Homo sapiens: one gene and its partners. The protein of the gene in region 1 interacts with the protein of each later gene in a pairwise test. Each region holds a gene or a part of one and is shown on either strand. Other genes may lie near its edges. The genes, in order: CD9, MME, PTGFRN and ODF4.

Evidence for each region.
Region 2: the proteins of CD9 (region 1) and MME interact in binary tests that used the Homo sapiens proteins (3 or more experiments, as listed by UniProt).
Region 3: the proteins of CD9 (region 1) and PTGFRN interact in binary tests that used the Homo sapiens proteins (3 or more experiments, as listed by UniProt).
Region 4: the proteins of CD9 (region 1) and ODF4 interact in binary tests that used the Homo sapiens proteins (3 or more experiments, as listed by UniProt).

What each region holds. Positions count from the first base shown.
Region 1 is NC_000012.12:6,224,386-6,231,406, reverse strand, and holds part of CD9 (CD9 antigen), read right to left. Parts: intron 5,982-7,021; coding exon 5,873-5,981; intron 5,269-5,872; exon of another isoform or gene 5,047-5,268; intron 1-5,046. UniProt on the Homo sapiens protein: Integral membrane protein associated with integrins, which regulates different processes, such as sperm-egg fusion, platelet activation and aggregation, and cell adhesion.
Region 2 is NC_000003.12:155,075,442-155,083,324, forward strand, and holds the start of MME (neprilysin), read left to right. Parts: upstream 1-4,877; 5' UTR 4,878-5,025; exon of another isoform or gene 5,026-7,883. UniProt on the Homo sapiens protein: Thermolysin-like specificity, but is almost confined on acting on polypeptides of up to 30 amino acids. Biologically important in the destruction of opioid peptides such as Met- and Leu-enkephalins by cleavage of a Gly-Phe bond.
Region 3 is NC_000001.11:116,905,007-116,912,920, reverse strand, and holds the start of PTGFRN (prostaglandin F2 receptor negative regulator precursor), read right to left. Parts: upstream 3,006-7,914; 5' UTR 2,718-3,005; coding exon 2,669-2,717; intron 1-2,668. UniProt on the Homo sapiens protein: Inhibits the binding of prostaglandin F2-alpha (PGF2-alpha) to its specific FP receptor, by decreasing the receptor number rather than the affinity constant. Functional coupling with the prostaglandin F2-alpha receptor seems to occur.
Region 4 is NC_000017.11:8,335,931-8,342,853, forward strand, and holds the start of ODF4 (outer dense fiber protein 4), read left to right. Parts: upstream 1-3,909; 5' UTR 3,910-4,121; coding exon 4,122-4,575; intron 4,576-6,923. UniProt on the Homo sapiens protein: Component of the outer dense fibers (ODF) of spermatozoa which could be involved in sperm tail structure, sperm movement and general organization of cellular cytoskeleton.

The DNA of each region.
Region 1 (7,021 bases):
AGCACCAGATCTGTGACTCTGGGGAAGCCACTTAACCTCTCTGTGCAACAGTTTTCTATCTGTAAAACAGGAGTAGCAATAATGCCCACTTCCAGGATTGCTGTGAGGATTAAGTGATATAATCCACATGTGCACAACAAATGCTAGCTGTTGTTAATCTCAATTATACCAAGCATGAGTAACAATCATTAATAATCACCATGGTGAATTTTAACCTGCTGCTGTATCCCTACTGTCCTTTCACTGGGACCAGAGAGATATCCTTGATGTAGGGGCTGAAAACACGCACGCGAGAGAGAAAGTCTGTGATGTTTCCCCACAATACACAGCAGGACACTCGATGAGAACCCTCGGCAGGTGACACGCTGACTTCACTGTCCCACATCTGCACCCCGAGCAGGGGTGAGACTTTGCAGGCAACAAACCATGCAGTCTGCCCGCAGCTGAGGCTCACGGGCAGCACAGAGCAGAATGCACACAGAGAGCGTTTGTTCCTCCCCCTTCTCCCCCACATCCGTCGTGAGGTCAAGTCACGTGGGGTTACTGGCAAACCCCATGTTGCAAGAATATGGGTATTGTTCTTGTGCATGCCTGGCCCACACTGGGCAAGGGGACAAATGTAGCTTGTCCTCAAGTCAGGTCGCATCTTCCTGGGCAGTCAAACGCTGTTGAGGCCACAAGCTGGGCTTGGGGAGGCTGTGCAGCCCCATGCATGGAGCACTGGGTAAGAGGGCAGCCTCCTTTGGTTCTCTCACATGGGGACAGTAGAAAGGCCCCAGTTTCTCCCCATCTAATGGGGGCAAGTCAAGGAAGGATGAGGTCACTCCTTTGAGCTCCATAGCAGGGGCTGAATAAACAGGAGGTATTAAGAGATCAAAAGGATTTACAAACACATGAAATACCGTGGAGTGGGAACGAACAGGCAGACATGTTTTCTCTAAGTCCAGATCCCAGTTCTTGAACCTGGCGGTCCTGGCAGAGGCCAAGGGAATTGGATTAGCTGCAAGTGAGCTACTAAAGAGAAAGTATTTCCCACGCAGAGAAAGAGAACATGCTCCTAATGGGGCTTGTGGTTAATATTAAATATTCATGCTAGGGCTCAGCAGAGGAAGATTTTAGGATCACGGGTTTTGTGGGCTTTAAATCTTGCGTGGATGGCTACGGATCTGCAGTGCCTAGCTTTAGCCCTCTCTAGTCACGGGAAAAGGGAAGCGATCCCCTGGCAGCTGTGTTCGGGGACTCAGCAGCAGCCGGCAAGCTACAGGACAGCTCATCTGGAAGCAGGCCCCATGGAAGTCACGGAACCACTGCAGGGCTCGGGCTGGTTTTTACAAGGGCTATTCAGTGCTTCCCTTTGGAGAAGCTACTCATCGCTTACACCCCAAGCTTGTTAGCCAAGGCTGCTGTTGATAAATGACAAAGTGTTCCCCTTTATAAAACAAGCGAATGTTAGCTTGCTGTCTGACTCATGGAAAAAGTTATCCATCACAGAGCCTTCTCTAGGATTACGGTATTAATTTGCTTAAGGGTTGTTTATTCTGCTTTTTTCAGGCTGACATTACAGGCCCAGAAAAAAAAAAAAAAAAGAAAGGCTGGTGTAGCAGCAGTAGCATATGCCAGCGTGTCCTTTACACAAGAAATGGAACAGTGTTTTTCACTGTTCACCAGGGCTCTCAGTTTAGCCCAGGGAGAGGACACAGCAGGCTCCCGTCCCTACACCAGCTCTGTCCTGCAAACAGCACTCACCACGCCCGTTTGTGTGAAGGAGAACAAAATCCGGTAGGGCCTCTGGCCTGCAATAAAAGTTTATTATATCCAAATAACTCCACCAGGTGTTCAAAGGAGCCCTACCTCTGCCCCGACTGGTTTCGTCTTGGTTCCCGCCCTCCCGAGTTCACGGGAATAAGTGCCACAATGGAATTCCATTTGCCACACGCTGTACTTCTTTGCCCCAGAGGGGAGTGGGTGTGTAAGCTGTGCTGTGGTTGTGTAAGCTGTGCTGGTTTCAGGAGGGAGAAAAATGAAGCCCAGAGCAATAAAATGAACTGCCCCAGGTCACAAGCCAGGATGGGGATGCCAGCTTACTAAGGCCAAGTGTCGCGTGTCCTGAAAATCACCAGGCACCTCATCATGGATAGGGGGCTGGCCGAGGAAGGGGGGGCATTCACGGCCTCTGGCTGGAGCCCCCCTAGATGCCCTCATTCAGCAGCCATGGTTCTGGAGGGACACCAGGGAGCTGGGAAAGGCTGCTGGCCTAGGACCAAGAAAATGAAGTTCCCCAACAAGTTTGCAGCCTGGGATTAGGGATCTTGCTGACGGGCTGAATCTCCAGGCCTGGATTGGAGAGAAGGCCCATATAAGGCTGTCAGCTGCTCTGGACTTACCATAGACTGTTCTGAATGTTGGAAAGGTTTTCACTTGCTTTTCTGCCTGGTTATATACTCTTTCTCTACTTGGTAAGCTGTGGCCCCACTGGAGAAAAGACACCCCTGGGCTGTTCAGGTTTCCTGAAAAGTCAGCTGCATGGTCAGGCTGGCCTGTGGGTTGCTCTGCAGACAGTTGGTGGCCCAGTGCAAGGGGCGGTCACCCCATGACTATTCCTTGGAAAAGTAGCCAGGGTGTGGCTGGCACTCCAAGCTCATCTGCTAGGAGAAGGGCTCTGGGCCAGTACAGAAGGCTGGTCTCACAGCCTCGTGGGGAAGGGGACACAGAGCGACGCCTCCTTGGCCCTTTGCCCATGGACGACAATTATTATTTCCTAAAGCGTTCAGTGACGTTCAGGGCATAGCTCAGACCTAAGCAGTGCTCAGAGTGCTGTGCTGCTGTTTTTTTTTTTTTTTTTTTTTTTGAGATGGAGTCCCGCTCTGTCTCCCAGGCTGGAGACAGAGCCTCAGTGGTGTGATCTCAGCTCTCTGCAACCTCTGCCTCCCAGGTTCAAGAGATTCTTGTGCCTCAGCCTCCCGAGTAGCTGGGATTATAGGTGCACGCCACTACGCCCAGCTAATTTTTGTATTTTTAGTAGAAGTGGGGTTTTGCCATGTTGGCCAGGCTGGTGTCGAACTCCTGACCTCGGGTGATCTGCCTGCCTCGGCCTCCCAAAGTGCTAGAGGCTGAGGCGGACGGATCACCTGAGATCAGGGCTGATCACTGTGCCCAGACACAGTGCTGCTGTTCTAACTTTACCGTGCATCATCCCCCTTGCCGGCGCTTCTGCAGGCAGAACGAAGTCTTCAAAGCTCCGCTCTCTTCCCCGAATGGGGTGTCGCTGCAAAGGATCTGTATTTCCCTGGCAGAGCTAAGTGGACAGTGGCCCTTAGACCCCAACTAGGGGATCTGTGTCTCTTTGGGGTTGTGCCTTCAAATCACCCTCCTGGTCACTTCAGGTAGGACCACCGGCCACCAGCAGGGCCCTGCAATGACCTGCAGGATCTGAATCCTGTGAGGTTCCCAGAGGTGAGCCCCAGCTCCTCTAATGGCACTCACCATTCTCCTGCCACCCTGCAGCTTTCCCACCTGTCAGCTGCTGGCTGGGCCACCGACGCAGGGGTTTCTCTCCCTGACTGCAATTTGGGTGAAGTAAAAGGGCCAAGACAGCGCCACCCCATCCCTGCCAATGGGGCACATTCAGCCAGTACAGACCTCTTCCATTCCTACAGAGGGAGACCCCACAACCTGGCAATGACAACCCGAGAAGCAGCTCTTTTAGGCCTGGGTTCAAAACCTGGCCCTGCCTCTTGAGGGAATATAAGCTTAGACAAGTTATTTCAGCTCTCTAGGCCTCGGTTTCTGCACTTGTGAGATGAGAATCACTCCACACTCCTCGTAGAGCTAAGGGGATTAAATTATATAATACACACAAGACAATGAATGACACACAAAGAAGGGGGCTCAAAAATGTTAGTGTCTTCCAGCCGGGCGAGGTGGCTCACGCCTGTCATCCCATCACTTCGGGAAGCCAAGACGGGAGGATCACCTGAGGTCGGGAGTTGGAGACGAGCCTGACCAACATGGAGAAACCCCGTCTGTACTAAAAATACAAAATCAGCTGGGCATGGTGGCACATGCCTGTAATCCCAGCTACTCAGGAGGCTGAGGCAGGAGAATCGCTTGAACCTGGGAGGCAGAGGTTGCGGTGAGCCGAGATTGTGTCATTGCACTCCAGCCTGGGCAACAAGATTGAAACTTCGTCTCAAAAAAAAAATAAAAAAAATAAAAAATAAAAATGTTAGTGTCTTCCTCCCAGTTCCATCCTCTTACCCATGAGATTCTTAACTCCCACATCTAAAAATATAAAGAATCAGCCATAGAGGCTTTGGGTAACAGAAAAGAAAAAGTGGGTTGTTAGAAGCAGCCAGGACAAGGGAGGACTGAGTCTCTCTTTGGAGACACACGCGCCGGCCACAGGGCTTTTGCTTAGGAAAGCAGGCCTGACTGTGCCTGCTCCTGCCGGCAGACCTGCTCCCCCAGCACAGGGCTCCCTTCTGGAACACGGCGTGGAGTGTGGAGAGTCTTCCCCAGCACCCGCACCCGGCTCCTCCCTCCTGCTCTGCAGGACAGCATTCTAAGCCTGTCACAGACTCCCAAAAAATGGTCTGTTGCCAAAACAAGTCAGGGCGCTATAGAAACCTGTTCCCCAAAAACTCTGTGTGTATGTGTAGTTTTTTTTCTAAACATACATTGTGCTTTCTCTCACTTTCTTTCCGATAATAGAGAGACACACCCCAAAAAACCCCAGCTAACAATAAAAAGCAGTAAACCCAGCAAAACTATCCACAGGGCTCAAATGTTACGCAACCAAAGGAGCTGTTTTTAAAGACTCTCCCTACCCAGTTCAAGAGGTGGGAAAGGGAAGGTCTACGTGGCTGGCCAGCCTTGCTTCTCCCTGAGGGACTGGGAGATAACTGTTTTCTCCCTCGTTTGTAAAAATAACTTTTTTGGTGGGTGGGAAGGAAGTGACCAAACTTACATTTTGAGCCTGACAACATGTCAGCGTCATCCTAAAAATAGGAGGTTTCCTTTGTTCCTCACAAATGAAAAGTTTCCTACCTCCAAGCCAGGCAGAGTACAGCCGCAGAGTCTGAATTCACGCAGACGCGGGCAACTGCACTTGGCAGGCACCAGGCTCCCCCTCCTCTGAAGGGAGCTTTGACGTGGTGATACGGCAACGAGAGGGATAGAATGGTCTAGCAAGGCTGCCAAGAAGCCTGAGTGTAGAAAGAAACCTGCCAAGTCTGTTCATGTTCAGAGGATCCCAGGCAGGTTTAAACTGGAAGCCTCTCTCCCAAAGCAAAAGTCGTGTCAAATACAAACAAATAAAACTAAACACTACAGCATTTACCCCAGTACCAGGGGTCCAAAGGACTGGGCAGAGTCCATTCTAGTCTCTCCTATTGTTGCTGTGTTTTCCAGGAGGCTGATGTTTTTCCCAGTCTCAGAGTCCCTATCTGAACAGTGAAGAGGAAAGCTGTCTATATCTTCTTCCAGCACTGCAGATCCCCAGGACAAAGCTTTTTGAATTAAGGAAATGATGCAGGATAAGAAGACAATCAGGAGAGAGCATCAGAGATGAGAACAGAGGTTCGTAAACCCTCAAGAATGAGTACAACTTTGGCAGAGGCTACATCACATCAGAGAACCATCAACATGCCTGACTTGGCCATCAGGAAAAGAAACCACATCAGTTAAACGCAAATTCCCAGGCACAACGACACACACAAAAACTGCACAACTTGAAAGGGACACGACTGGCCAGCGTGGCTAGAGCAAAAGTCTTTCCCAAGCCCAAGTCCCTGGGTCAACATGGGGCCTCCAAAGTTGCAGGAACTTTGTTGGAGCCAGGGTCTGAATTCACTGAGCCTTCCCCGTCCCTCACCTGTGTAGAAGCTGGAATTATTATTATTAGTTTCTTGCTCGAAGATGCTCTTGGTCTGAGAGTCGAATCGGAGCCATAGTCCAATGGCAAGGACAGCAATCCCGGCAAGCTGCAAGACATACAGGACATCAGCATTAATTCTGGCTGCCAGCAACAACACAGTCCCCACGCGCTTAAGGGTGAGACTTGCAAAGGACTTTGTGACCACCCTTGGTCTCTGCCCCTCATATACGCCTGGTAGTTGTAGATGCCATTACGGGGTGTGTTTGATTCATGCAGGTACTAAAAATACCAGCAAGCGAGGAATAAACAGTGACCTACCTGCCGCCCATTGGCTGAAGGGGTATTTTATAGGCAACAGAACACTATACAGCAGTGAAAACGAGTAACTCTAGCTACACGCAACACCATGAGTGCATCTCACAATGCTAAACCAAGAAGCCAGAGCCACAGGCACACACACAATATGATTCCATGTAGTTAAAAACGCTATGCTGTTTAGGGATGCACACAGAGCTAGACGCTTACATGTGCCTATAAATGATAAAGGAAAAGCATTGTTATCAGGTGAGTGGTGATGTTTAGGTGGAGGAGGAAATTATGCTCAGGGAGGTGCCATGTGGCTGGGGGTGTCGTATTCTAACTGTTGACTTGGGTGATGGTTACACAGTTCCGGACACACATGCACCAGGGAGGGCAGCTGCAATGTCCCTGGAGACCTGCTGCTCAGTAAATGACATGCCAGGGCCTCCCCTCGCTGGCACTGCTGAACTAGATGCTGTGCAGGAGGCCTCCTGCCAAGTCCCCCCAGTGCCAGCTGAGCTCCCTCGTCGTCACCCGTACCAGGGCTTGCCGGGGGAGTGACTCACAGGCCTCCAGTGTGGTAGCCGGCTGGACGCAGGAGTGGGTGGGCCCAGGTTTTGCTGGTCCACCCTCCTCAACAGAGGCACTCTTATGTCAGAGCCCGCTCATCAGGGACCTTGGTTCTCGGCTCCAGGAGCTATTGATAGCCCATGGTGTGGACAGGCCTCTCTTTCCTTCCTCCTTTCCTCCTCTCCTTTCCCTTACGATATGGCAGTGAGTGTGGGCATGTTGGGTGGACAGCAGATGTGGCAATAGTGGGAAGGGCCACCCAGACCTCCGCCTGCA
Region 2 (7,883 bases), on another chromosome or scaffold:
TTATTTCTAGCATTTTATGTTATACTTCCTATATGTTCTTCTCTAATACTTTTTATTTTTCTGTCCTCCTTTAGATTGACTTATGTTTAATTTTGTTTTTTCTTTCTGCAAAACTTGACCTTATGCACTCTATTTTTATCTTTTTTGTGGTTGTATTAGTACTTTTTACATACATAATTAACCTAATAAAGTCTAAAGTATATAATTAATCAATATCATTATCCTTCTTTCCAACAACATAAGTAAGGACTTCATTTTATTTATTTAGCCAGGGTCTCACTATGTTGCTCAGGCTGGTCTCAAACTTGGGCTCAAGTGATTTTCCTGCCTCAGCCTCCTGAGTAGCTGGGACTACAGGTGCACACCACCAGGCCTGATTGAGTAAAGACTTCAGAGTGCTTTAATTCTAATTAAACTCTCCCAGCTTACACACCCCGTTGTCTGGTTTTTTAGTTGATCTTTTTTATCACCATTCTTTTATTTTTGTTAATGTTTGCTTAGATTTATTTATGTTGTTACTATATTCTTTGCTTATCATTCTTTCTCACATATCAGATCTTCCATAAACTATTATTTTGCTTCCTAAATTCATTCTCAAGAAGTTCCTTTGGTTACAGTCAGTGGTGGGAAGTTTTTCAATTTTTATTTTGAACAGTCTAGCTTGGACTACTTTACCATAGATCTTTAACTTGGAAATACTCAGGCTACACAATTAGTATAAATTCTATTCCTACATCCATTTGAAGTCTGGCCAAATCATGAATTCTTACAGAAAGTTTTTGTTGTAAGTTTACCAGCCTGAGTCAGGACTGAAAAAAGCAAGTATATCTATGTTTCTTGTGGAAGAGTAGGGGTGAGGAGTCGGAGTTGGGGCTGAGTTTCATTTTTTGTTAGCCCACATTTTCACTTTGCCCTGGACTACACTTTGTATGAAGTCCCTTGGCACTTGCAAGTCCTGTTAAAGTGAAAGCTCTAGGTCGCTTAAGTCCAGTGAGGCCTCTTGAAATGGATAGATACCACCAGGACAGCTACTGTTTTCAGCACTCACATATCCTTCTTGATTTTTTTGTCGGTATTACAAGAAAGACATCTTGATCCAGACCCCAAAAGAGGGTTCTTGGACCTCTTGCAAGAAAGAATTCAGAATGAATCCATAAAGTGAAATCAAGTTTATTAGGAAAGTAAAGGAATAAAGAATGGCTACTCTATAGGCACAGCAGCAGCATAGGCGGCTTGACTGAGTAAACTTACAGTTATTTCTTCATTATATGCCAAACAAGGGGTAGATTATTCATGAGTTTTCAGGGAAAGGGGCAGAGATTTCCTGGAACTGAGGGTCCCTCCCCTTTTTAAACTATATAGGTTAACTTCTGGATGTTGCTATAGCATTTGTAAACTGTCATAGCACTGGTGGTAGTGTCTTTTAGCATGCTAATACATTAAAATTTACATATAATGAGCAGTGAGGACCACCAGCGGTCACTTTCATGGCCATCTTGGTTTTGGTAGGTTTTGGCTGGCTTCTTTACAGTATCCTGTTTCATCAGCACAGTCTTTCTGACCTATACCTTGTGCCAACCGACCTCCTACATCATCGTATGACTAAGAAGGTCTCACCTCCTGGGAATTCAGCCCAGCAGGTCTCAGCCTTATTTTACCCGGCCCCTATTCAAGATGGAGTTGCTCTGGTCCAAATGCCTCTGACAGCTCTCTTTGTTTTTGGCTTCTAAGATTTTCTTTTACTTGCCTGCTGGCTCAATGGTGCATATAAAAATGCACTATAGCATTTTTAAAGGACTTAAAAAAATTCATCAAGCATTTGTGTCACACACAGTGGTTTTTAAGGATCCATTCTGCAAACTGCTAGAACCAATGCATTCCATTCTTAATAACTTATGTATGGCCACCAGGAGGGCTACTTTCTCCTCCATTCCTATAAGTGGCCAAACTGAGTGATCTTGGACCACCTCAGTAAGCCTCAGTTGTCTAAATTTACTTACTGTAAATAGTTGGGGACTCTTTAAGATCCCTTAAAAAAATTATCTCAAACTTGCACAAACTTCTGGGAGGAGATTTAGCATTCTTGATTTAAAAACAAACAAACAAACAACAACAACAAAAACCCTAAGTTTCTAATCAACTTTAATGAAATCAAGATATTGTAAGGGAGATGTGGGTAGTCCAAGCTACTTAAGAGGCTGAGGCTGAAGGATTGCTTGAGCCCAGAGTTAGAGACCAGCCTGGGCAACACAGTCAGACCCTCATCTAAACAAAAAAAAACGAACAACAGCAACAACAACAAAAAACAGAAAGAAAAGAGAAAAAGAAAAAAATATTTGTTCTGGGAAACCAGTTACCAATCCATACTGTCGACTATCAGCTGAAAGTCAGAGTCTAAAATTAACTCTAAGTAGGCATTTTTTTTTTCTTTTGTCATACATTTTAAGTAAATCCTTTTTTTTCCTTTAAAAGAGTCCTCACCGCCAGGCATGATTGCTAACACCTGTAATTCCAGCACTTTGGGAGACCGAGGTGTGTAGATCACTTGAGGCCAGGAGTTTGAGACCAGCCTGGCCAATATGGAGAAACCCCGAAAGTAAAAGTACACACACACACACACACACACACACACACACACGCAAGCAAAATTAGCTCGGTGTGGTGGTGCGTGCCTGTATTTCCAGTTGCTCAGGAGGCTGAGGCAGGAGAATCGCTTGAACCCAGGAGGCAGAGATCACACCACTGCACTCCAGCCTGGGCGACAGCACGAGACTCTGTAGGAAAAAAAAATTCCAGTTGAGATGCTTTCCAGGGCGCTAGTCAAGCCCCGCATGCTTATTTGTGGGAGTGAAAACACCAATATTTCGGGATTGTTGTGAGGACTAAATAGTGTCTGTAAGATGCACAGAGAAAGCGTAAATAGACGTCAATAGCACTTGTTAGGTCTACACACTCCATTTTTCCTCTATATTAATCGAATTATTTAAAGATTGGTTAGCTTTTTGGGGAAATGTCTCTCCATTGTATTCCACTTATTAGGATGAACTACCTTTTCTCCTTGCTTTTCAGCTTTCTCTGCTATGAAAAAGATGGAAAATTTTTTAGCACAAGGGGACTCTTCTCAAGCAGCAAATCATTTTGATATTAAAAACAGATAATTGCAAACCCAGTTTTATTTCAGTATGAATTCCGCAGTGGAGTGTGAATATGTGTGTGTATGTGTGTGTGTGTGTGTGTGTGTGTGTGTGTGTAATTACCTGTGATTCAAAAGAGGAAAGGGATCAGTATTAAAGGTACTTGTACACTGGAAGCAAAAAAAAAAGGAAGTTTAGTTCCTCTGAGCTCCTTGGCAATTATAGCTGCTAAAGGTAGCTTTTACAAAGAAACTGCCTTTGTGCCTAAAGTATTTATTTCCTTGTTTGTATTTACCCCTTTGAGGAGGAATCGCTGTGTCTTGAGTGAAAGGGGTACGCTGCTTGCTTGCATTAAACTGTGAGGGTCCAGGCGCATTACGGCTGATTTCAGTAGGTAGAGCAGACACACTTTAGTTTATTTTTCTCTTTCTCACTCCCCACCCTCAACCTCCGATGTACACACGTTTTAAGATTCCCTGAAGTCAGGAGGTGGGAGCGGAGAGTTTCAGTTCAGATCTTGACATGAGAGTACTTCGACCAAGGAAAAGAAAGGGAAGAAAGAGGGAAGCGGGGTGGAGAAAGCAGGAGCAAGGAAGGAAAGAAGGAAACGGGGAGGGAGAGTAAGAAAAAAGAAAACGAAGGAGGGAGGGAGAGAGGACATTTAAATGAAGAAGGAAGGAAGCTTGGATTCAGGGAGGAAAGGGAGCGGGAAAGAGAGCGAAAGAAGAGCGTGAGAAGAGGCAAGCATTATAGTCTCCGGTCCACAGGGGAGAGATGGAGCCCCCTCAGGACTAGAGAATCCCGAAGAGCCCGTGTATTGTTTTCTTGAAAGCCCCGAAGCTAAGCAATTCTAAAAATGTTTAGCAAAGCCCTTTTGGGAATGGTGAGATGGGGGGTGGGGAGGATGGGACATTTTCATTGCCACCGCCCGCCCCCCGTCTCCCCGGCCCCCTCACATGAAGTGACTGGATTTGGGAGACCTAGCGGAAACCTTCAGGTCACCCAGGGAACTGCTCCTCTCTCTGGTCCTGCAGCGGCGAGGCGGGGTAGGGGGTGGGGGGGGTGGGCCGTGAGAGCGCCGAGACGCGCGGGGCGCGGAGATGTGCAAGTGGCGAAGCTTGACCGAGAGCAGGCTGGAGCAGCCGCCCAACTCCTGGCGCGGGATCTGCTGAGGGGTCACGGTGAGTCTCTGTGGGTGCGGGTCGGAGGGATGCCCAGGTGCCTCGTCGCCCCACGGCCCGGGCGGAGGCGGGTCCGGAACCTCCCCCAAGTCCGGCCTCAGCCTGGAGCCCGCGCGCCTTGGGCGGATGCACGGACTGAGAGGCGCTTGGCTGGGCTCTCAGCCCGCCACTGCCACCCGGCCCCGTGCGCTCATTGGTCGGGATGTGTCGGCTCAGCAGCCTCCAACTTCTCCCGAATCCCACTGGTGAGTCCCAGGAGAGCGAGCTGAGGGAGAAAGGTCCAAAGGGCGCGAGCGCCCAGGGCGCTGGGAGCCCGTGGGACGGGCACGGGGAGGGCAGAGCCAGCCGAGGGGAGCGGCTGCCGGGAGGTGCGCTGAGCAGGGTCCGCAGCTAAGGTCCAGCGCGATCCGAGCGCCCAGGACCCTGCGGCCGTGGAGGAGGCGTGCCCTGGGAAGGAGCCGCTACTGGGACCTGAAGAGTGAGGGGAGGGAGAGGGGCCCAGAGGGTGACCTGGAGGAGGGCTCTGGAAGTCACGTCAGGTTGGCTCTTCAGGTTCATTTCCATAGTTCCCTGCGGCCTCTGCCTTGGGGAGTTATGTTTTGTTACCGAGATCCGCGCTACCAGATTGCACCGGGGCTGATTTGGGGGCTGGGAATTTGCCATTCTGCTGTACAGACACTGATTTTTTTTTCTTCTTTTTAAAAAGCAAGGTTTGTTTTCATTTTGGTTTCTGTCGGATTTTCTCATTTGTAACTCACTTTTCTATTTTTACTTTTCTTAACCGGAAGATCTTTTCATTATCCCACCTCTTCATCTTGCTTTTAACCTGATTTCCTATTATATAATTAATGCTTAAATCTCACAAGGGTTGGTCGGTGCGGGGCTGGTGTGTCCTTTTGTAGATGAAAGTTTAAGACCTCTTAACTGGTTTCAGTCTATTTGTCTGGTTTCAAAATAAGGGTAATTGCAACCAAATATCCCTCTTTAGCTTCTCGATCAAGTCGATTCCTCCCCCATATATGATTCAAATGGCAATTTTATTAAACTGAAAACTAGTACCTGACTTGCAGCGTCAGCATTTGGAAAGTGCTTGTCGGCAAATCGACTGTATGAAGGCGTGTAGCTTCATCCCCTGCCATTTTTGTGGGTTCTAGCACTTTAAAAAATTGTCTGGTAATTTCTTGGACTTAACCCTGTGTCTTTGGTTGTAGAGCAGCACTAACCAGGGGAGTAATATGGTTGGCACTTCGTGTCCAGAACTCCGTATTTCAGGCTGGGAAACACCTAATTAATGTCTGGGAAACAAGAAGATGATTTATCCTGAGTACCTCTGTCCTCAGCTTCTGCAGACACAGTTTAAATATGGAAACTGTTTCTCCTTCTTCCTGTGCCTCAGTTTCCATAGAACAAACTGTAATTGCATAGCACAGCTTCAGGAACCTGCAGATATAAGTTAATGTTATAATGTGCAGTGAAGATGAAAACTGCTTAGCTAAGTCTAAGTCTGTAAGTCAATGAGATTTCCTTTTTAACAAATCAGTTATCCAGGTTTCCTGCTTTGACTGTCTGATATAGTAATGCTTATGCTCAACTGGTATAAGAATTGCTGCTTTACATTGCTTTGAAATTAAGCTTACACTTAAAATAGTAATTTATTCTGTTGGTAATATTGTCGAGCTGAAGTTTGCAGGTTCTTGTTATCTTAGACCTCCTAATTCTCTATTCTCGTCTGTGGCAGTGTCCACTTTTCCGTTTAAACTTTTTATTTAACACATCTTCAGTTGAAGTGAAATATTTTAAGAATACAGGTATGTTTTTGCGTACCCTGCTTTATATGGGACTATAAGCCTCAACTTGGTATTTTTTTTTTTTTTGTATTCTTTTGTTTACTTGTCCCCCTTACTCTTCTCTATGGGATTGGGTGTGGTTAAGTTGGATATTCAGGTATTTGGGGTTTAGTCATATGTTCCACAGTGAGATTCCAGATACTGTCCCCTGATGTCTTAAAGAAAAATTGTGAACCTTCCAGAATTAACTGGAAATGAACGACAAAGTTAATTAGGAGATTAAACTTGCATCATTTCTGCTTTTGCTCAATGCTTTTGAAAAAAGGCTACTAAGAGCAAAAGACTTCCTTTAAGAATTTACAGGGCATTTACAAGAGGGGGAGATGGAGGAAGACTTTGCAGGTGATTCAAAGATTATATTGTTTTGATGCAGCTTCTGTCACTGTCTTCATTTCTCTGTAACTGTTTCTGCAAACTTGGGTGCTGACCCATTAAGAGCCCAGCTGCTTCAGTACCCAGTCTCAAGGGTAAGGAGGAGAAGCCAAGGGAAAGTAACTTACAGGGAGAAAGAAATGCTTATCCACTAGCTTTACTACACCACAAGGCATGGAGTTTCCACAGAGCACCTGTAATTTAACCCTGAGGCTGCCCTGGTTCACCCCTTCGCTTTACTTTACAGGGACACTGACTGTCATTTCTAAGGAAGAACTAAGAAAAAAAAAAGTCCTTTTATACCAGTAAAACATTTCTCTACATTGTCTTCTGACATATGCGGGGGGAACAATATTCAGGAAAGGGAAATACTTTAGCAAATGTGCTTAACATTCAGGTGTTCTTTAGGACAGTCATGAAACATGGGGAGACTGGGAGAATTATTATTGTTTACCTCTCTGTAAAGTGTCCAGAGTATTATTAAATTTGTTCCCCTCTTTCCTTTGCCCAACCAATACACTATTAAAATAGGACTACAATCAATGCAATTCCATATCATAACCCCAGGGGTGGTGAGACTAAGCCAGCATGCCTTACATAACCATTAAGTAAGACATTTTAACATTCAGGTACATTACATTCCACTTTTATTTAGCAGACACGGTTTTCATTGTGTAATAAAATATTTTTATTTGATAGTCTGTCCTTGCTTATAGCCTCATGTAATCAAGGGGACAGCATGTTTAAGACTTTGTATCCAGAACTTTAAGGTCTAGCTGTGGTTCGCTTATTAATAATTCACTGGGAAGGTTAATTTCTAGTTTTCTGCTGGGTCTCCCAGACCATACTTCAAATGTAGAATATGTTTCTTCTTTCTCCTATGCCTCAGTTTCCACAAAACACACCCTTAGAGAATTGTGTGTGTTCAACAAAGATCTTTAACTATAAGAGCATTTCTGAGCCGCCACTTCATCCTGGGACCAAATTCTAAGAGCAATTTGTATTGAGCTATAAACAGCTAATCTGCTAGTTTAAGATGTTCTTTTATACAGTCATGCAGAAAAATGGAAATTGTGTGTTCTAATCCTTGGAGACTGGCTGATAAAGTGTCACTAGGCCCCTGATGAAATTTAATATTTAGGCTTATATCCCCTTAATTTTCCCCCTAAATTTCTACAGTACGCTTTTACTGCATGATGATACAGCTTTATTTTGAACAGTGACCAAATGTGTTCTTTACAAAGAATATTGACGAGTTGTGTAGTCTTGAACACGTTGCCTGACTTCTCTGTGCCCCAGTTTCCTAATTCTTTATTCTATTCTGTGGCAGTGTCCACTTTTTGGTTTAA
Region 3 (7,914 bases), on another chromosome or scaffold:
TTAGGAAGGCTTCATGGAGAAAGTGAGTTTCAAGGGAAAAAGGAAATATTAATACGCAGGCAAGAGGTGAGAAGTAGAAGGGGCCAGAAGGTTTAATATAGTCTACATAAAGGAGAGCAAACAGGTTAGTTGGAACGAAGTGTCTGAGCCAGAGAAGACCAGAGGGGAGGGACACACAAGGGGCAACATCTCCTTGGAGGAAACTCATAAGGACACAGTGAGAACAGGTGGGAGCCCCAAAAATGATCATTTAGGAAAAGGATGAGCTTAAAAGGGAGGCTGGAGGAAATAATCAACCAGGAAGACACCAACTGTGTGGGAAACAATCAGGACCTGGGCTAAGACAGTAGCCGTAGAAACAGGAAGGAAAGAAAGAAGCTGGAGTCTGTGGTACGGGGAGAGCCAAGAATTGAGAGACTACGTGAATATGGAGGTCAAAAAGAGCAGCGATACCACGATTATACCCAGGTTACACCCCAGGAGGAAAGATGATCTTGTTTATCAACATATTACATTTCAGGGATCAGTACAGTGCCAGAGCAGTGTAACACAGCGAGACCTTCCCAGAGGTCAGGCTGAAGCCACACCGAGTGAGATTCTGTGACAGCAGAGTTATCAGGAGGGTCATCAATGGTTCAGAGAACTGTTAGGTGAAAAGGTACTGGCTGGTGACACCACAGAAATTCCCTGTGTAATTCATAGGAGGCATCCAGCCAGGACAGGATATGCTGGAGTACAATCAAGATTTCCCCAAGCTGTGCTTTCCCCACTTCTATTTTGTTTTTGTCAGTCTCTCTTTGCCCCCTCCCCTCTTCTCCCTTCATTATTACTCAAGGGCATTGTTTTCAAAGTTCTACCTCATCCCACCCTCATAACTGGTACCCAGGTTGTTCAGAGAACTGCACAGCTCTAGGGGGAGTTATTCACACAGACTACAAAGTGAACAGCAGCTCCCGAAGTTGTACAGTGCACCATCTGTGCAAACCTAGGCCATGGCCCTGCTTGACCCAGACACATAAAGTCAATTAATGTGTGTGGACTATAACAGCAGTGCGCCACTAACATACAACTTACAAGGGTCCCAGAGTGAAAAGTAAAGATTAAAAGCACTACCACCGGGTGTGGTGGAGCATGCCTGTAATTCCAGCACTTCAGGAGACTGAGGTGGGAGAATGACTTGAGCCCAGGAGTTTGAGGCTTCAGTGAGCTGTGGTTGTGCCATTGCACTCCAGACTGGGTGAAAGACTGAGGCTTTGTTTCAAAAATAAAAATAAAGCACTAGGATCAGGGACTATAGAAAAGATGCCATAAAACTAAGTGGAAGATCTGGAAGCTTTCTGCACATGGGCTGAAGCTGAAGCAATGTGGCTGGACGAGCTCTCTGAGGGAGTCAGTTCAGAAAATCCCTTCAAGGTGAAGGAAGAAAACACAGCAGCCAGCAAGGCTGGTTCATCAGCAGCAGGAGTCATGGGGGTTACAGCAGTGTGGGCCCCGGTGTCCCCAGCAGGGGAGTAGCTATAGAAGGCCTCCTCTGGAACCCTCTGACCATAAGTGCAGAGTAATCATTTGCCCTGTGTGCAGCTGGGACCTGAATGGCACGGACACCGCACATCATGCGCTCTGTGAAAGACTCAGAGCCGCCTTCTCTAGGGGCTTGGAAGAGAACCCCAGGCCAGGTCACAGGAATCATCTTGTCCTGGTTGACACTGACAACAAGGATCCAAGAATATCAAAACATTTAAGAGTCGGCCCTGGGGTACCATGGTGGGCACTTAATAAACATATTTCCGTGGCTGGCTAGGATCACCATGTGGATCTACGTGAAGATGGTGTCTGTGTATGGAGTGAATGGAAAATGGAGAGGGAAAAAACCCACAAAAGATTCCTTGGGTGGGGGGAGGGCGCTGGGCCAAAACCTCACGGGGCACCCAGGGTTTCCGGAGGGTGGAAGACGAGGGGATAGTAAGGGAGGGAAAGTAACAGGTAGAAAAAGTTGGAGAAGCCAGGCTTTTAGGTCTTTGTGTATAAATACGCAGCTAGGCAGCTTCAAGAAAAGCTAAAAGAAAAGACTGAGGCAGAAGATCTAGCCACGACGAAAATGACGGCAGGACTCGCCCGCCGATTTCCATTGTAACGCTCCGGGCCACCCTGTGACCTTCGTGGAAGGAAGTTGGAGGATTCTCTCGCTTCCCTGGAAAGGCAACTCCGCGCGGGTTGGGTGAAGAGCGACCCGGCCGGCGGCGGCTATGGCGGGGCATATCAAAGGCTCACATTTCCGCTCTCGAGCCGAGGACCCGGGCCGGGACCGCAGCACCTTCCGGGCCGGGAGTTCAAGGTGAGCCGGGCTCCCGGCGGCCAACAGGTAGGGAGACCTGGGGGAAAGACGGCCCCGGGCCACTCCCCCCGGCACATGTTGGGGGCGAGGCTCGGCCTGGCGGAGCGGCCACTTGCACCCCGCGCGCGGGGCCCGAGCGGATTCGCGCCAGGCTCCGGGCGGCCCCGCGGCCGCTCCCCGCCGGGCCGAACAACCCGCGCACCCCGGCCGGGTTTCCCGGGAGCAGCCCGGGCACCCTCGGCGCCCCAGGCCGCGCGCTGCAGCCGCGCCCCGCCGAGCCCTCCAGGGCCTCGCCAGTCCCCGTGTGCCCCGCTGAGCCCCGCGCACACTCACCCAACGACAGGAGCGCCAGCAGCAGCGGCCTCGAGGCCAGGCGCCCCATGCTCGCCCGGCGGGAGCGACTCTCCCCCTCCTCCTCCTTCCCCGCCGCCTCTCCTCCTCCTCCTCTTCCAGCTCCGGCTGCTCCAGAGTCGGCGCTCCTCCGCCTGGGCCGCGCGCCTGCTCCGCTCTCCTCGCGAGCCGATAAATCCCAGCGCTGGGGCGTACGTGCGCCCCTGGCTCCGCTCGCTCCCTCCCGCCTCCTTCCCTCCCTCCTCCAGCCGGCCGGGCCCGGGAGCCGGCCCCGCCGATCCGAGTGTGCAGCCCCGACCGCTTCCCGAAAGCAGAAGGGAAGAACCGCAGCGCCCGCCCGCGCCTCCCATCCGGCGCTTTGCCAGCAACAAACACAAACTTTCCCAAGCCCCTCCCCGCTCCAGGTAACGGAGGAAGAGCCGGGGCCACCCGCTTAAAGGCGAGGAGGCGTCGGAGCCCACCCTGCCATCCCCTCTGGGCCCCCACCCCACGAGAAACTTTCCTCCGACCTTTAAAAGTTGGCCTGGGAAAGACTCGTCTGGAAATCCCATCGCTTTAGCCCTATCCCGGGACACCCCGCGTTCCATCACGCTGGAGTCACCCACGCGTGTCTAGTCTATCCTCAGCCAACTCCCCGCTCGTTCGGCCTCTCGTCCTGAGCTAAACACCCCACCAACCAGCCGCTTGGCCTATGCCAAAAATTATGCAGATAGGAGCGAAGGAGCTGAAAGGACTTTTAAAGGCCACGGATTCCAACCTCTACCATACAGAGGCCTTAAGTGTTTCGGTGAGGTGCCCAAGGATTCACAGGGAAGGGGCAAAATCAGAACCCCGCTCTCCTGACTCTGCCCACTCCCCGGTGGCTAGGGTGGGCCTGTCTCCTTCCTTACCCAGCTCCCTCCCTCTCCTCGGCGCCTGTGGCACTGATTAGAACAGCACCCCACAAAGACACCCATTTAAAAAACAAACAAAACCCAAGTGTATTAATAGCTATAGTACTTCATATAGAATGTACTCTTAAGACTTAATATTTATTGCTCTAAGTGGACACCACTGATTGCCAATAAAGACTCATTTTTCCCCCTACAATAGAGTTTTGTGCTTTTGATTTGAATACAAAAGGCCCGACTTGGTTGGGAGAAATGGAGCATTCCTTGCTTGAAACTTAGCAAGCATGATTCAAACACGCAAGGAGCAGCACTGGTGCCCACTGCCCGTCACTGGGCTTTCATTCACATGCAAAACGGATCGCAGATGCTTATGCGGAAACTGCCCACACTGGGGAAGAACACTGCTTTTACTCTCATGCATCCGTCTTTCAACCAACAAATGTTTCTTATTTCCCCACTATCAAATGTGTGATTAGCCAGGTATCTTTGGAAAGAGACTTAAAAATTCATTCCTGGTGGTGCAACGTTATTGTACTTAATGCCACTGAATGGTACACTTAGAAATGTTTAAAATTGCCAGGCCTGGTAACTGGTACTTGTAATGCTAGCTACTCAGAAGGCTGAGGTTGGGGGGGCAGGGGGAGGCGGGGGGCAGGGATGGTGTTGCTTGAGGCCAGGAGTTTTTATTTGTTTTGTCTTCTTTCTTTCTTTCATTTTTGAGACAGGGTCTCAAAATGAGGATCTGTCACCCAGGCCGGAGTGCAGTGGTGCGATCAGGGATCACTGCTGCCTTGACCTCCCAGGCTCAAGCAATCCTCCCACCTCCACCTCTCAAGTAGCTGGAACCACAGATGTGTGCCACCACACTCTCGCTAATTGTTTTTATTTTTTGTAGACACTGGAGTCTCCCTATGTTGGCCAGGCGGGTCTCGAGCTCCTGGGCTCAAGCGATTCTCCCGCCTCGGCCTCCCCAAAGACTGGGATTACAGGTCTGAGCCACTGGGCTGGCACTTTTTCTTCTTTTTCTTTTTTCTTTCTTTTTTTTTTTTATTTGAGGCTAGAAGTTTGAGACCACTCGGGCAACATTGTGAGACACCGTCTCTAAAAAAAAATTTTTAAGGTTAAAATGGTAAATTTTGTGCTATGTACATTTTACACAATAATTTTTTTAAAATTTATTTCTGCCGCCAAGCCTTTCCTGGTTCTGTTCATACACACTGTAATTCCTTTCTCTTCCCCATCCCAATTCTTCCCTAGAATCTCGCAGGGAAGTTTCCCAATTTCATTCAATCAACCTTGAATTCAAGCCTAATGTTAGGCCTTGGAAGGTAGTGGAGCTTCAGAGAAATGTGAGGCCTGGCACCTTCAGAAGCTCAGATTTCAGCTCATCCTCCATCTTTCCTTTTCTTAACCACCCAGAACGCTTAATGTTTGAACCACACATTGTGGCACTTGGTCACATTCAGTTTAGCAAAATGTATACACTACCCCCATCTCTGTCTAATAATGCATGGGCCTAAGAGGCTGTCACATTTTCACCTTGTATCCCACCTTATGGCAGAGTAGATGTTTTAAAAATTCTTTTGTTTAATAAACAATGTGTGTCAGGGACTGTGCCTAGCACATGGTAGGTCCCAATGTATATTTATAGAGTGAATTAATGGCAGACACTGGGCTAGATCCTGGGGGTACAGGGATGAAGCAGACAGTTCTTGCCCTTGAGGAGTCGACATTTTGTGCATTGTGATTGCATATGCAAGGTAGAGTTGTGACACCACAAGGGAGCGGCCAGTCCAGGAGGAGGCTGTCAGAGAAAGCTTCACAGAGGGGATGACTATGCAACGAGTCTTGAAAAATTGGTAGGTCTTTAGCTGTGGAGTGTAAGGATAAGCTTACAATAGATGTTGTGTATTTAATATGATAGAGATTCTTCTCACCTCACCCACCCCCAGGTATTATTAAATTAATGGTGTATCTTACAATCATGGAAATAACAGTGGTTAACCATTGAAATGATGAGAATAAATAAAATTGTCTAGGTAAGGCAGGTAGAATGAGGACTGAAGTGGGTAGCCTGCTGGTGGCTGGCAGTTAAATGTCATGGGAGTTAACCAAAGAGCCACTTTTGTAGCAAAAAATAAGCATAAATTAATAAGTCTAGACTGTTGGTTATAACCACCACACCCTTTGCACCTTCCTGACTACCAATGGATAAAGGAAGAAACACAGCAGACTGGCACAATTTGTTAATTCATGACTCTGGAATCTGATGATGCTTTTACTATGAAAGATATTTATTTACCAGAGTGAGTAACCTTCTATACAGGTAAGGCTTTTGCCCCAACCAGTTGTTCTCCTATCTTAGTCTATAGGCTTGCCTGGGGCAGGAAGACTCACTCTCCAGCAATTCTAATTGATTCACGCCCACCCCCAAGGAGAGTACCGACATGGGTTTCTTTTCTCCAATCATAGTGCCCCCAAGGGGCACTGGTCACAGCAGTCCGACATTATGGTCTTTTGGTCACACATGTCTTTCTGCAGGTGATACCCCTAAAACCTCACAAGAGTCCTCATACTGTTACGCCAAACAAGTTTTCCCTGCTGAGATCAGGCAAAAACATCATCATGTTATTTAACTTTGTGAATGAAAATGTTAAAAGGTTCCCAGTGAATGAAATTGCTGATTGTTCTAAGACTCACCTAGACTTGGAGTTGTTGGCCCTGCCACCTCTGGCAGCCTGTACACGCACACAGTCTCCAAATGACCCTGACCCCTACCTACTTCAGCAGGGGCTCAGGGGAAGGAGTATATTCCATGGCACCGTTTCATTCCACTAATCATTTTCACTCACAGTCTTCCTTGTTCTGTGTCCAGATGTATATTTTCCCAGTTAAAGTTAAACAGAGATTACTAAACAAAAAGAAATTTAGGATTATATTATAGAATTAGAAAATGAAATTAAAAGTTAGAAAGGGAGGGGTGGGAAGAGGAGGCCTTTATTTCCCCACGAGTGAGAGTCCTGCAATACTGGTGAGATTAGTGGGGAAGCTGTAGAATGCTCATGTGACAAGTTTGAAAACAGCAAGGGACCTCATCTGTTTGGTATGGGCTAAGCAGGGTCCTGCCTGAGGGCTGGTCCTGCTCGTCACCACCCAACTATCAATTCTCCCCATCTTTTCTTCAGCCCTAAAAGACTGAAGTGGGACATGGTGGAGAAAGTGTTCTTAAATGACTTAGAACTGTTCCAGATTCCACCTCCACCAGGCCAAAAGTGCCTCCCTGGGAAGCTACCCCACATAGCATCACGCCTGCAGGAACACTGGGGTGGAGAAGTGTGAGGAGAAAATAAGGAATTGGATGGAGGTGAGCCTTTGGCAATAAAAGCTCTCCCCAAGACTGAGGCTATTTCCTATGTTACGAGCAGACAGGGCCCTTGCCCTGGAGGGGCTTATCATCTAATTTAATGCATGAAAAACCTGGAATACAGTGAAGGACGGGGAGGAGATGGAAACCACAAGAGCAAAGGAATTGAAAGAAAGGTAAATGGATAAGAGAGACACAAGCCATTATGTGTTGTATTCTGCAAATATGCCATCATCTGGGCTGAAAGTATCTCTTAAATGAATGGAGACAGCAGTCCCTTGTGCAAAAGAGGGGCTAACACATTAGAAATAGTTGCAGGCACTATGGATGTTGGAGTAAGTTCTTTACCTAAGGTCATGGCTGCCAAGTAGGATGGTGCCCAAGGGTGCCCCATCGAGCCAACATTGTGCCCTGTCTCTGACCTGCTATGCCCAGGAGAGGCCTTTATCCCCTCACAGGAAGGGAGTTTATCCCAGTCTTCACACATAAATTGGGAGGGGGAGGGAGGGAGACGAGGATGAAGATGTCCTCTTCCTTTCACCATTTCCCCACTTGCCTTTCTCACCCCACGTGAGCTGCACTTCTGTGTTCAACTAGAATATTATCTTAAGTTCTAAGCATTATATTTTAAAAACAACATTTACAAACTAAAATGCATCCAGAGTAGGGAGGGTTGCTAGCCAAAATACAGAATGCCCAGTAAAATTGGAATTTCAGATAAATAAGCAATATATTTTTAGTATAAGTATGTCCCAAATATTACACAGAGCATACTTAACACTAAAAATGTATTCATTGTTTATCTGAAACTCAAATTCAACTGGGCATTCTATATTTTTATCTGTGAAATCAGGCAACCCTCATCAGGAGAAGAGTTACCTTATATGGAAAGAGGTTCTTCTGGAAGACTTGGAGAAGACAACAGGGAGCTCTGAGGAGTTGTCTTCAGTTGTTTTTGAAGTGTTGCACTTTAA
Region 4 (6,923 bases), on another chromosome or scaffold:
AATCCCAGCACTTTGGGAGGCCGAGGCGGGTGAATCACGAGGTCAGGAGTTTGAGACCCACCTGGCCAACGTGGTGAAAGCCCGTCTCTACTAAAAATACAAAAAATTAGCTGGGCGTGGTGGCGGGCACCTGTAATCCCAGCTACTTGGGAGGCTGAGGCAGGACAATTGCTTGAACCGGTGGGGGCACAGGTTGCAGTGAGCTGAGATCACACCACTGCACTCCAGCCTGGGGGACAGAGTGAGACTCCGTCTCAAAAAAAAAAAAAAAAAAAAAGAAACTCCAGGAAAAACTTAAAAACTAAAGAGGATTCGAGGGAGGAAGCCCAATCCTGACGACACTGGCTCTGTGTAAATGACATTCCCAGCAGGCCCACCACCCCCTCTCCCAGTGTTCTCCCCTCCTTCTCCCATCTTCAAGATTCTGTCTTCTGGCTGGGTGTGGTGGCTCATGCCTGTAATCCCAGCACTTTGGGAGGCCGAGGCGGGCAGATCACGAGGTCAGGAGATCGAGACCATCCTAGCTAACACGGTGAAACCCCATCTCTACTAAAAATACAAAAAATTAGCCAGGCGTGGTGGTGGGCACCTGTAGTCCCAGCTACTCGGGAGGCTGAGGCAGGAGAATGGCATGAACCCGGGAGGCGGAGCTTGCACCACTGCACTCCAGCCTGGACGACAGAGTGAGACCCTGTCTCAAAAAAAAAAAAAAAAAAGATTCTGTCTTCTGACCCAGTGCCCCAACTGTAGCTGCTTGTTCTAAGGATGACACTCGTCCCTGGCAGGGCCAGAGAATGCTTGGACTTGGGACTGAGAGGTCTCCCCTCCAGCAGCTGGAGGGGTCTGATACACAGCTTGGAGTGTGAGGGCCATGTTTCCCACCATGTGGACCAGAGCAGAGGAAGAGGCTGGTCTGCAGAGACAGAGGAAGACGCCCAGGGAGGGGCAGAGACCACAGCCAGAAGAAGCGCCCTCACAGGCTTTGAATTTCAACTTTCAACCATTCCTGAGGTCCCACTGCACAGGTGACATCAGGATTCATAGTTCACTCTCCTTTTGCTTACAAGGAGAGTTAATTTGGAGAGTTAATCTGTTCCATGATTTGCAGATGCCACTGACTGGCAAGGATGCTTGCCAGGAATTATCTTCTGCATTTTTGCTCTTTCCCTGTTTGCTAGTGAAAGACTGTAAAAACAATTAAAATGATAATTTAACAACATAATTACCAGTTGCTGGGAATTTACTATGAACTAGTGAGTGCTTTTTGATCATTATCTCATTCAGCACTCTTACCAAGTCTATGAGAAAAATATTGTTCCTGTGTTACAGATGAGTAAACTGAGGCATAAGGAAGCTATATGACATCCAGGTTCACAGGGCTATTAAGAGGAAGACCCGGCTGCATGTGGTGGCACACACCTGTAATCCCAAGACTTTGGGAGGCTGAGACAGGTGGATCACCTGAGGTCAGGAGTTTGAGACCGGCCTGACTGACATGGTGAAATCCTGTCTCTACAAAATACAAAACATTAGCTGGGCGTGGTGGCTCATTCCTGTAATCCCAGCTACTTGGGAGGCTGAGGCAGGAGAATTGCTTGAACCCAGGAGGCGGAAGTTGCAGTTAGCTGACCAAGATGGCGCCATTGCACTCTAGCCTGGGCAACAAGAGTGAAATCCCATCTCAAAAAAAAAAAAAAAAAAAGGCGGGGAAGACCCATTTTTCATACCTTTGCCTGTTGGACCCCAAAGCCTATGTTCTTTTTTTTTAGACAGAGACTCCTTCTGGCCTGAGTGATGAAGGAAGACTGTCTCAATAAATAAATACATAAATAAATAAAATTATAACAATCTCAGAAGGCATGACACCTCTAGGACCCATTCTCATCCTACATCCTCCTCTTTCTGGTGCTGAGAAAAAAAAGAAAGGAAAAAGAAAAGTCAAAAGAAGAGGGAAGGAACTGGTGGTGATTGACTAGCAGTGAGTAGAGCTGGGAGGGAGGTGAAGGGTTGGGGAAAGCAATGGGAAGCTCGATGACATCTTTGCAAGACATGTCCAAAGAACAATGGAGGGAGGATCTTTTCCTGGGGATAAGCTCCTGCTCCCTCCCCCTGCTCCATCAGTGAGCATTTGGGGTTGGGGTTAGGGCAGAGGAACTAGGAAGAGAAAAGGGGACTGTCCTAGTCCATTTTGTGTTGCTATAACAGAATACCTGAGGGTGAATAATTTATAAAGAAAAAAGGGCTATTTGGCTCACAATTCTGATGGCCAGAAAGCTCAAGATTGGGCATCTGTTGAGGACGTCAGGCTGCTTTCACTTATGGTGGAGGCAAGGGGGAGCTGGCTTGTGCAGAGATCACAAGGTAAGGGAGGAGCTGAAACTGTGCCCCAAACAGTTAAATAAACCAGTGATTAACAGACATTTTCGAGTTTACAGGATGGCAGCTAAGAAACAGCTTGCTGAAATGCTGAAAAATCCCTTTGCTTATAACAGGACTGGCTGAAATCAGTGGGAACCCGTATGGCTGACAGCAATCCGCACAGAACGAGCTTGCTGATGTCACAGCCTGAATTTCCACCTGCTGTTTCATACTAACGCCACCAAATTTGCACATGCAACCCACGAAGAACCTTGGAGATAACCAGACATGATTAAGGACTTTCTAGACTTCTCCTTTCTTTCCACCAATCACCCGCTAATCCCAGAATCCTCCCCCTAAACCTTTTCTAATAAAAGTACTGCCTTAAGACCAGCAAAGAGAGACAGATTTGAGCTGGATTCCCGTATCCTCGTGGGTCAGCTCACAATAAAGCTTTCCTTTTCTCAAAACCTAGTGCCCTAGTATTGGAGTATTGGCTTCTATGCACATCTGGCAGCGAGCACTTTTGCTTGGTAACAGCGCCAGGTTCTTTTTAACAACCAGCTATTGCGGGGAGCTAATGGAGTGAGGTCTCAGGGAAGGCGTTAATCCAATCACAAGGCATCTGCCCCCATGACCCAAACACCACCCACTAGGCCCTCTCACCTCCCATCACCACCACACTGGGGAGCAAATTTCAGCATGAGGTTTGGTGAAGACAAATTAACCATATGCAGACCACAGGAGGGCCTCTCACATACCATTGCTCATATGTAAAGGGAGGCAGAAGCTGGAGGGAGGTGTCAGATCCACAGTTCTGAGCTGTGGCCTGAGAAACAGGATTTCCGGAAAGAGTTAGAGCTGGAGCCACAGGCCAGGCAAGGTGGCTCACACCTGTAATCCCAGTGCTTTGGGAGGCCAAGTGGGGAGGATCTCATGAGGCCAGGAGTTTTTTTTTTTTTTTTTTGAGGCTGAGTTTCACTCTTGTTGCCCAGGCTGGAGTGCAATGGTGCGATCTCGGCTCACCGCAACCTCCGCCTCCCAGGTTCAAGCAATTCTCCTGCCTCAGCCTCCTGAGTAGCTGGGACTACAGGCATGTGCTACCACGCCCAGCTAATTTTGTATTTTTAGTAGAGATGGGGTTTCTCCATGTTGGTCAAGATGGTCTCGAACTCCCGACCTCAGGTGATCCACCCACCTCGGCCTCCCAAAGTGCAGTGATTACAGGCGTGAGCCACCGTGCCTGGCAGAGGCCAGGAGTTTGAGACCAGGCTGGGTAACATATCAAGACCCCATCTCTACAAACAATTGAAAAATTAGCCAGGCATGCTGGCACAATCCTGTAATCCCAGCTACTCAGGAGGCTGAGGTGGGAGGATCACTTGAACCCAGGAGTTCAAGGTTGCAGTGAGCCAAGGTTGTGCCACTGCATCCCAGCCTGGGCAATAGAGGGAGACCCTGTCTCTCTCTCTAAAAAAAAAAAAAAAAAAAAAAAAAATTGCTGAAGACTTGGCTTCCCTCCCCCATCTCACTGTGCCCCAGGAAAATTCCGTGGCAGTTAGGGGACCTGGCCTGCTGAATGGGTTGGGGCCTTCTCTTGGATCAAGAGTCTCTTATTTGATCGAGGTCTGTTATTAGACTTCCTCATTCTTTCTCAGACCTCAGGCTGCATGGTGGCAGCTGATGAAAATATCCAAAAGATGAGAAGAGACAATTGAGTCTGGTGAGGGAAAGGGGAGACAGAGGGTGAAGTGGTGCTCAAGATGGATGCAGAGTACTCTGGGAATGAGTTCCCCAGGTCAGAAGGAGAAAGAGACCAACATCAGAGACCTGGAAAGGAAAGGAAGAGTGGGGAGGCAGGATGGGGCACAGGTGAGCTGGGACAAGATGGGAGACTGCTGTCCTCCACCCTCTCCCTCAGTAGTAACAGGTCCTTGGGCCAGCGCCAGAACTCTCCGCTGCCCTTTCAATGGAGAATCACACACAGCTTCCGCTGGATGGCCCAGGTGTTGGCCTCTGAGCTCAGCCTGGTTGCCTTTATCCTACTATTGGTCGTGGCCTTCTCCAAGAAATGGCTGGACCTCTCTAGGAGCCTCTTCTACCAGCGCTGGCCCGTGGATGTCAGCAACAGAATCCACACATCAGCCCACGTTATGTCCATGGGGCTCCTGCACTTTTACAAATCCAGGAGCTGTTCTGACTTAGAGAATGGGAAAGGTGAGCCCCTCCACCCCCCATCCCAGCCCAGGCCGCCAGCCTGTCTTGGCCTCTGTATCTGCACCCTGGATGTATTCTTGTTCCCTCTTTCTGGTCATCTTTACTTTTTGGCCTGCAAGATGGTTCCACTGGCACTGAGACCTCCGATGATCGTTTCTCATCCTGTAGCCTGGCTAAATAGATTTGATTGGTGCAATGGAAAATGTCACTGCTTTTGATAAAACCCAGAGCCAAATCTGTGCTTCTAAGAATGCTGTGAGAGAGTTGGGCATGGTGCTGCACACCTGTAGTCTCAGCTATCCAGGAGGCTGAGGTGGGAGGATTGCTTGGGCCCAAGAATTTGAGTCCAGCCTGGGCAATTTAGTGAGACTCCTGTCTCAAAAAAAAAAAAAAAAAAATCAGGCTGGGCACTGCGTCTCACACCTGTAATCCCAGCACTTTGGGAGGCCAAAGCAGGCAGATCACCTAAGGTTGGGAGATCGAGACCATCCTGGCTAACATAGTGAAACCCCGTCTCTACTAAAAATACAAAAAATTAGCCAGGCGTGGTGGCACATGCCCGTAATCCCAGCTACTCTGGAGACTGAGGCAGGAGAATTGCTTGAACCCGGGAGGTGGAGGTTGCGGTGAGCCGAGACCGCACCATTGCACTCCAGCCTGGGCAACAAGAGTAAAACTCTGTCTCAAAAAAAAAAAAAAGTTACGAGGGGCATGGACTCAGCACAAGAGAATCATTCATTAATCGCCTAATTTACCAGGGACAAGAGCCCCAGTGAGATGGGGGTTTCCTTAGTCTTGTGTACCCAGAGCTTTGAGAGGACTCCTTGCAATGTCCCCTCTCAGGCCCTGATCCCACACATTCTCCTTTCCTTCTGCCTCAGGCCTTGCTTTTCTGGATCATTTTCCTTTTTCCACATCTGGCTTCTGTGTTCCTTCTTTCCCTGAATTCTTGCAGCTGCTTCATTCCTCATCCTTGTTTTTTTCTGTTTGTTTCGCTGATTTTTTTAGAGACAAGGTCTCACTCTGTCACCCAGGCTGGAGTACAGTGGTGCAATCATAGCTCACTGCAGCCTCGAACTTCCAGGCTCAAGGGATCCTCCTGCTTTAACTTCCGGAGAAGCTCAGACTACAGGCCGTGGCCACCACACCTGGTTCTTATTGTTGTTAGTCTCTGGTTATGCTGTTCCCTCACCCCTCAGGAATTTGGAGTTCTTTCCCTGCTCCTGGGGAAAACCAGAGCTTTTGACCCTTATTTCCATTTTTTCACTCTCCTTAGCATGAAAAAAATCACACAGCTATTATTTTCTGAAAGTATTATGTCCTTATCATATGAATATGAAAATATTCATATAATGAATTATGAAAGCATTATGAAAATATTATGTCCTTATTATAATAAATTTGGGGAAACAAAAGCTATCCTTTATTGTACACTTACTCCATTTGTTCAATTTAGTCCTTAGTCAATCCTAAGGGATAGGGATAATTATCCCTATTTTAGAGATGAGAAAATTGGGACTCAGAGAGATTAAGTACCTTGCTCAGGGTCATAAAGCTATTTAGATTGAACCAAATGACATGCTAATATTTGACTGCTTTTCACCTACAAAAGGAGAATTTCACATGGATCAACCTAATAATGGCAGGGTTGGAATTGCAACTCAGGTGTGCCTGGCTCTAAAACTCACATAGGCGCCTTGCTCTACGGAGTTACTCAAAGACAGCCAGGCTTTTTATTTTTATTTATTTATTTATTTGAGACAGAGTCTTGCTTTGTTGCCCAGGCTGGAATGCAGTTGCGGTCTCAGGTCACTGCAACCTCTGCCTCCCGGTTTCAAGCGATTATCCTGCCTCAGCCTCCCAAGTAGATGGGATTACAGGCGCCCACCACCATGCCCAGCTAATTTTTGTATTTTTAGTAGAGACGGAGTTTCACCATGTTGGCCAGGCTGGTTTTGAACTCCTGACCTCAGATGATCCGCCTGCCTCGGCCTCCCAAAGTGCCTCGGCTCACGGATTACAGGCGTGAGCCACCGCATCCGGCCAAACATCACTGATTTTTAAAATTTATTTAATTAGGATTAGGTGTGTATAAACAGTGAAAATTCAAAGAATACAAAAGATTGTATACTGAAGTGAGTCTGTTATCTCTTAGTATCCAGTCTCCCTCCCTAGTTTCTCCTGTTTCTTTCCAGAGACACTCTATTCAGAGACAAGCATCTATTTTTATTTTTATTTTGAGACAGTGTCTCACTCCGTCACCCAGGATGGACTGCAGTGGTGTGATTGTAGTTTATTGCACTGCAGCCTCAAACTGCTGGGCCCAAGTGATCCTCCCACCTTGAAGC